2 linked regions of the Homo sapiens genome follow. The protein of the gene in region 2 purifies or fractionates together with the protein of the main gene of each other region. This does not show direct contact. Each region holds a gene or a part of one and is shown on either strand. Other genes may lie near its edges.

Region 1 (3,423 bases), about 70 Mb from region 2:
TGGCCAGGGTTTCTTCGAAGTTAACCCAGCTTACCTCTTCTCCAGTGGTACAGTATGCACCCTGGCTAAGCTGGTTTCTGGCACCCAAGGAGTGTTGGTCATTTCTGTTGATACTTGGTGAGTTGTAGCTTCCTTTATGTTACTATTCACTTTACCTCTATTTTTCCAGCATACTGCTTCCTTGAGATATCAGCAAATATGAAATCTTTTTTTTTTTTAATAATAGTTTTGGGGTACATGTGTAGAACATGCAGGTTACATAGGTATACACGTGCCATGGTGGTTTGCTGCACCCATCAACCTATCTACATTAGGTATTTCTCCTAGTGCTATCCCTCCCCTAGTCCCCCACCCACAACAGGCCCCAGTGTGTGATGTTCCCCTCCCTGTGTCCATGTGTTCTCATTGTTTACCTCCCACTTACGAGTAAGAACATGCAGTGTTTGGTTTTCTGTTCTTGTGTTAGTTTTCTGTTCTTGCTGAGATGATTTCCAGCTTCAGCCATGTCCCTGCAAAGGACATGAACTCATGCTTTTTTATGGCCACATAGTATTCCATGGTGTATATGTGCCACATTTTCTTTATCCAGTCTATCATTCATGGGCATTTGGGTTGGTTCCAAGTCTTTTCTATTGTGAACAGTGCCACAGTAAACATACTTGTGTATGTGTCTTTATAGTAGAATGATTTATAATCCTTTGGGTATATACCCAGTAATGGGATTGCTGGGTCAAATGGTATTTCTGGTCCTAGATCCTTGCGGAATCACCACACTGTCTTCCACAATGGTTGAACTAGTTTACACTCCCACCAACAGTGTAAAAGTGTTCCTAGTTCTCCATATCCTCTCCAGCATCTGTTGTTTCCTGACTTTTTAATGATTGCCATTCTAACTGGCAATGAGATGGTATCTCATTGTGGTTTTGATTTGCATTTCTCTAATGAGCAGTGATAATGAGCGTTTTTTCATGTTTGTTGGCTGCATAAATGTCTTCTTTTGAGAAGTGTCTGTTCATATCCTTCACCCACTTTTTGATGGGGTTTTTTCTTGTAAATTTGTTTAAGTTCTTTGTAGATTCTGGATATTAGCCCTTTGTCAGATGGATAGATTACAGAAATTTTCTCCCATTCTGTAGATTGCCTGTGCACTCTGATAATAGTTTCTTTTGCTGTGCAGAAACTCTTTAGTTTAATTAGATCCCACTTGTCAATTTTGCCTTTTGTTGCCATTGCTTTTGGTGTTTTAGTCATGCAGTCTGCCCATACCTATGTCCAAAATCTCATATTTACTGCTTGGAGTCAAAAGCTAGTAATAGCAGAACTGACAATAACATTCATAGTTGGAGTTAGGGAAGCATCTATGTCTGTTCTCTTTTATTTTAAAAAAAAACTACTTTTGTTTCTGGAATACTATGTTTTGCCTTCTACTGGATAAAATAAGGACCCAGTATGAGAGAATTGTATCCTTTAGTGCTTCTGGCCTTCTACAAATACCTGGATATTTAAATAATGGATGAAGTTATGTTTTGCTTTTTAATAAGCAAGTCTTTTGAGAAACAGGTTTTACTGACTTTGGCCTGTGTCACTAAACTCAGTTCACCTACTGGAACTTTTTTTTTTTTTTTTGAGACGTCTCACTCCATCACCCAGGTTGGAGTGCAGTGGTGCCATCTCAGCTCACTGCAACCTCCGCCTCCCAAGTTCAAGCGATTATCATACCTCAGCCTGCCAAGTAGCTGGGACTACTGGGCATGCCATTATGCCCAGCTAACTTTTGTATTTTTAGTAGAGATGGGGTTTTGCCATCCTTACCTCAAGTGATCCACCCGCCTCGGCCTCCCAAAGTGCTGGGATTACAGGTGTGAGCCACCATGCCCAGCCAACTGGAACTATTTGAAGGCTTTATACCAGAAAAGTATAAAGAATCCAAAGGGCTGCCACAGTCAGGTGTGCTGGTGAAAGAGACCTTCAAGATACCCCTGAGAAGATCTTGAAAGATTTCGAAAAGAATGCTGTATTTATACACCATCTGGCTCCAAGATGCTTTTTTTTTTTTTTTTTTTGAGAGACGGACTCTCGCTCTGTCGCCCAGGCTGGAGTGTAGTGGCATGATCTTGGTTCACTGCAACCTCCGCCTCCCGGGTTCAAGCAATTCTGCCTCAGCCTCCCAAGTACCTGGGATTAACAGGCACCCACCACCACACCCGGCTAATTTTTGTATTTTTAGTAGAGACGGGGTTTCACCATGTTGGCCAGGCTGGTCTTGAACTTCTGACCTCAGGTGATCCACCGGCCTCAGCCTCCCAAAGTGCTGGGATTACAGGCAGGAGCCACCACGTCTGGCCCAAAATGTTCTTAAAACAAAGTAGATGCTGTAAGACTACAGTTGATAAAGTTGGGCTCTGGGCTAGGTTCTTAGCATCCAACACAATCAGTTCTGTGTTCAGTGTTCTGCTGTATGATAAACCAACTGCTCTAGAGAAACACCAATATTCCTCTTCTGAAACCTGGGAAAATGTCTTTTTTGGGTCCCATAACTAGATGTCACAAAAGGAGTGGGGAGTGGGGAGGCTATATAAAAAAGTTCAACAAAACCTTAGTAACTGGTATACATTAATAGGATCCCATTCTTAGAAACAGCAAGTTAAAGAAAATACCATAATGGGAAAAAAAAGTTAACATTTCTGAGAGATGTACCAGGTATTCAGTCTCTCAGGCAGTGACAACTTGTTCAGAATAATTACCTACAATAGATCCCAAACCATTGAAAAATGCCTAATTGTTTACTTAATGGAATTTGTACTTACTATTTAATTAGATGAATATCTTTATTGAAAGTTTTCAGTAAGGGTTGCAACAAAAAGGGCTTTCTAATTAACCAATTCCCCAAGCATCTGTCTAATTAAAATGTAAAGTGCAATTATTCTCATTGTCACATAGTTTTTGAAGTGAAGAAAAATCTTCCAAGAAGTAGGATCAATACCATGACCTATAATTAAATGTCATAAGCGGATCAGTGTTCTATCACTGGAGAAATGAGACATCTCCAATGAACTATGAAATGTAAAATTAGGTAAGTTTGTGCATAGAGGATTTCTAGGAGGACATACAAGACATACCTTCAAATCAAGATGGCCCTGTAGTTCCTCAAGCTCAATTTTATCAATTCCAGTTACCCTCATTTCCAGTTCACTTTAGCGAATCACTATCATGGCCTTAGACTCGTTGTTTGAGAATTCAGTGGTCAAGATTCTTAACTCAGACTACCCCAATTTGTATCTTGTTATCTGTTATCCTGTTAGTCTTCCCTTCAGTTGTCTCCAACTTAGCCTTGGCTGCAATTTGGAATTACCTATGGTGGCTTCAAAATGCTGATGCCTGGGTCTCACCCCCCAAACATTGTGAAATCATGATTTCAAGCCT
Region 2 (4,297 bases):
TTGTCTTAGATGCTGATTGACACAAAAATAATGCCTTTATGACTTTTTATTAAATAAAAGTTCATTTAATTTAACAGTACTTGAGTCCCTGCTACCTGCTTGGCACTGTGCCACACGCTGGAGGCATTCCAACTGAAGTCTCTCATCTCCAGAAGTTGACTCTTATCGAGCAGGAAATGGCTCTCAAAAGGGCCTCCAAAATCAAAACCATACTAAAGATTATTTGCTATTTTCATGCTCATTCTCTTACAAACGTGGAGTTTTCCAGAGGGTACATGATGTGTGATAAAGGGTAGTGGAGTGTGTCAAAGTTTTCTCTATTTTTTTTTTTTTTCTTTTTTGAGACGGAGTCTCACCCTGTCGCCCAGGCTGGAATGCAGTGGTGCAATCTCGGCTCACTGCAACCTCTGCCTCCCGAGTTCAAGCGATTCTTCTGCCCCAGCCTCCCAAGTAGCTGGGATTACAGGCGCGCGCCACTACGCCTGGCTAATTTTTGTATTTTTAGTAGAGATGGGGTTTCACTGTGTTGGTCAGGCTGGTCTCAAACTCTTGACCTCGTGATCTGCCCGCCTCGGCCTCCCAAAGTACAGGGAGGGATTACAGGCGTGAGCCACCGAGCCCAGCCGAAGTTTCCTCTATTTTAAGTTCTCATTAACTATTTATTAATAGGTATAACCCACACTTTTTTTAAAAAAAGCTCTTTGGAATCTTCCGTAATACACAAGAATATAAAGGCGTTCTGAGACCAAAAAGTTTGAGAACTGCTGCAATACAGGTCCGATGCATACCCAGGAAGCCGTCAGCAACAAAGAATACACTACAAATGACCACAGTCATGAACCTACAGTGTGAGGTTTGGTCCCACCCAGGTTGGGAGCCAAATGCGTGACTAAGTGGAGATGGCTAGGGTGTGGGTGAGGGGCAAAGGCAGGCTGAAAACACTGGAGAGACAGGCCCAGCTCTGCGCAAGGGCACACACCTCCTTCCTTTACACACTCAATACAAGCTGTAAATCCTTCTTTCGCAGGTCAGGGCATAACCTGGACCAAACGGGAAATTTAAGGCAAAATAAAAGCAGGACATTAACTTGGACCAACCGGGAAATTTAAGGCAGCCTCTCTGAACTAAATAGTTTAAAAATCTGTCCATTTAGTAGTAACCGCAAAGTTTGGCCTAGAGACTAAAACATCTGCTTCCTGATTTGGGGGTGGAGATGAAGTGGAGTGTAAGGTAGAAAACGGCGGGAAATGAAGACCTAAAGAAAGAAAGAACAGGCTTGGGGGAGGGTAAGAGGCACCGCAAGAAGCCAACGAATGACACCGACGCTGAGGCGCGTGCGCCAGCCCTCCGCATGCGCAGGCGGACGCCTGGTGTTCTCGCGGGAAAGAACCGTTGCGCCCGACTTTGCGCGGAGGTAGGAGGGGGAAGTGGAGGCGGGAGTGAAGTCTCGCGAGAAGAGTCGGTTGCCGTAGCAGAGCCCTCTAGCTGTGTGTGTCTGAGGCTCGGCCGCCTGAGCCGCGGACGGTTTGCTGAGCCCGTTAGTGCGCCCGGCCGAGACACGCCGCCGCCATGTCCCGCTACCTGCGTCCCCCCAACACGTCTCTGTTCGTCAGGAACGTGGCCGACGACACCAGGTAGGTACAAGGCAGGTACTCCGGGCCTAGGCGGGGAGGCCGCAGGCGCCTGGAGAGGACCCTGGTGGTGGCGGCACTGGGCCGGGGGAGGGGACGGAGTGAAGATGGCGGGTCCCGCGCCCGCTTTGGCGCCGAACTAGGCCGCGCAGCGGGCCTCAGCCGCCGCGTGGGAGCGAGGGCGGCGCCTCTGCCTTCGCCGGGCCGCGTGGCGGGGTTTTTCGGTCCCCCTCCCCCTCCGCAGTTTGCAGCCCCTTTCTCCCTGCTTCCTGCCGGCGCGAGCAGCCCCCCGCCGCGGCCTTTCCGCGACCCGACGGCCGCCCCCCATTGATTTGAAGTTCACATTCTTCGAGGTTCACGCCCCCTTGGCCCAGAGATTTTTTTTTTTCCCCAGCCAAAAAATAGTGAGATGAAATAACGGGATCGAGGGAGAGGAATGTTGCTACCATTTATCTTTGTTGTTGTTGCCGTTGTTAATATTTGGGGGTTTTAATCAGTTGGAGGTGTTTGGAGAAAGGGAGCGTTGAGATTTGGGGAGTTAGATTTTTCCAGTTAAATGTTGCGAGTAGTTTTTCTTATTTCCTGGAAATTCTGGTCACCCTTTGAAAAGGGAGGTTTGGGAAGCGTCAGTCATTAGGACGTTGACAGCTAAGTTAGATTAATTCAGACGTACCTTAAATAGGCTTTGTTCTCACCATTCCCTTGTTTCGAGTTGCCTTCAGATTATTTTGGAAGAGTTCTTACTACAAGATGAGGCTTTTTATTTCACAAATAATGAATCTACACACAGAAAATAAGTGGTTTGGGTTTTTGGTGTTTCGTGGGGGTTTTTTGCTAGCTTTGTGATTTGCTTTTGTCTTAAATTTAAGAAGGAAAGAAAGCAATAATTCTTTCCATAAATAATTCTTTCCATAATTTCTAATAGTTACGTTAGCATCTAGAGAAATTTTCTCTTTACGTCATCTTGACACTTAACTATTTAAGAAGTTCGATATTTGTGACTTTTTCAGACCATATTTATCTACTGTTAAGTGTGTAAATCTGTCGCTAAAATTGGGGAGTAAAAATAAGTGCTTGGTATTTTTCAGAGTGCTAGAGTCGATTTGATGCTGTAAAAGTAAAAAAAAAAAAAAAAACAAGGCTTATATACAACCTAATGCTGCTGTACCTTTTATGAAAAATGACGGCTGTAGATAAAAATAAGTTGTGGTCATTCCCTTGTACCATACATATGTCTGCTGTTGTCCTGTTAATGTAAACTGCATTTTTATCTTCCAAATTCTTGGATCCTAGCTTTCCTTCATCAAAAAGATATATTGCCTATACATCTTAAGGACTTGGACATAAAAATTTGAGGTCTTTTTATGATGTTTTAGGTCTGAAGACTTGCGGCGTGAATTTGGTCGTTATGGTCCTATAGTTGATGTGTATGTTCCACTTGATTTCTACACTCGCCGTCCAAGAGGATTTGCTTATGTTCAATATCCTTTCTTCAGATGGCTGATTAGTGAGGGGTGTTGAAGTTTGAAATTCAAGTTTATGTAAGTGGTAACATCTAAAAAGTAGTTCTTTTTGTCCTCTAATAAATGTCTGTCTTCAAATTTTTGAAAATTAATTCTGACTCACACATTGCTCTCGTTATTAAAGTTAATCCAAAAATGGTAAAATATATAAATTCCCATTCATGCTTCTGAAACTCATATCGATGATTATATATGTGATTTAAATTTGAATGCACTCTGGTTGCTACTACCTTTAATGTAAGTCCTTTAAAAGTTAATATGTTCTTGTGCTTAGCAATTAAAATTTGGTATTCTTGTTTGTTAATTTGAATCACTTGATCAAAAACAAATTGTATAACAATGAGGTAAACTTCTTTAATATTGTCCCCTAATTTGCTGTCCTCTGTTGTTACCTCAGAGAATGTAAAGCTGTACAGTTATGGCGACCCCAAAGAGAAAGCATGAAAGAACCTTTAGAGTAGAGTTCAACACTTAAGGCAAGTAGACAAGCCAAAGACCTCTTAAGGATCAGGCTTGAAGAGAAGGGAGAGTTTGGGAAAAGAAAAAATAAAGAAAAGCTGGAAGAAGGACAAGCCTAATGGGAGACAAAGCCTCGCTTTATCTACAAAAGGGGGAAAAGGTTGTTTTTCAAAGTTAAAGATAAAGCCATCTGTCATATTTGGCCAAGCATCTCATGACAAGTCCTTCTGACAAGCACTTAAAGAGTTAAAGGTCAAGATGAAGTTGAATGATGGCCAAGATTAAAGGAGTCATACCTGATGTATCCTACAGAATAACTATTTTTCTTTTTTTTTTTTTTAATGTTTTGTAAGCAGTTAATTTTCAAAATTATTCTGGTTTGGTCTAGTGACAAAACCTGTAACTTGATTTATGTGGGCCTTTGATGTTGTGATTGTGGTCTTGTGTAAATGCACTCTCTCTTATGAAGTTAAAGTGTAACAGGATGTATATTCTTAAGATTAAATTCAGCATATTTTGGTTTTGGACCAGGTGGTCAGATGCCACGGAGTAGCAGGCAGTGCTCTTTGGAGTAGCGTGGGGTTCTGGGGTTAAGCCACAGAGCCCTGCTTAAAGGAGAGACAGGTGCATGCACTGGGGACTACTTAGAAACAGCTCTGGTGGTCTTGTAGGGTCAGAACCACT

What was found. The genes of interacting proteins can lie anywhere in the genome.
Region 1: the proteins of SRSF10 (region 2) and DNTTIP2 purify together in Homo sapiens (affinity purification with mass spectrometry, with the first as the bait; one large-scale study listed by BioGRID). This does not show direct contact.

What each region holds. Positions count from the first base shown.
Region 1 is NC_000001.11:93,865,784-93,869,206, reverse strand, and holds the end of DNTTIP2 (deoxynucleotidyltransferase terminal-interacting protein 2), read left to right. Parts: 3' UTR 1-2,923; downstream 2,924-3,423. UniProt on the Homo sapiens protein: Regulates the transcriptional activity of DNTT and ESR1. May function as a chromatin remodeling protein. Part of the small subunit (SSU) processome, first precursor of the small eukaryotic ribosomal subunit.
Region 2 is NC_000001.11:23,977,528-23,981,824, reverse strand, and holds the start of SRSF10 (serine/arginine-rich splicing factor 10), read left to right. Parts: upstream 1-1,497; 5' UTR 1,498-1,569; coding exon 1,570-1,634; intron 1,635-3,007; coding exon 3,008-3,112; exon of another isoform or gene 3,113-3,172; intron 3,173-3,196; exon of another isoform or gene 3,197-3,914; intron 3,915-4,297. UniProt on the Homo sapiens protein: Splicing factor that in its dephosphorylated form acts as a general repressor of pre-mRNA splicing. Seems to interfere with the U1 snRNP 5'-splice recognition of SNRNP70. Required for splicing repression in M-phase cells and after heat shock.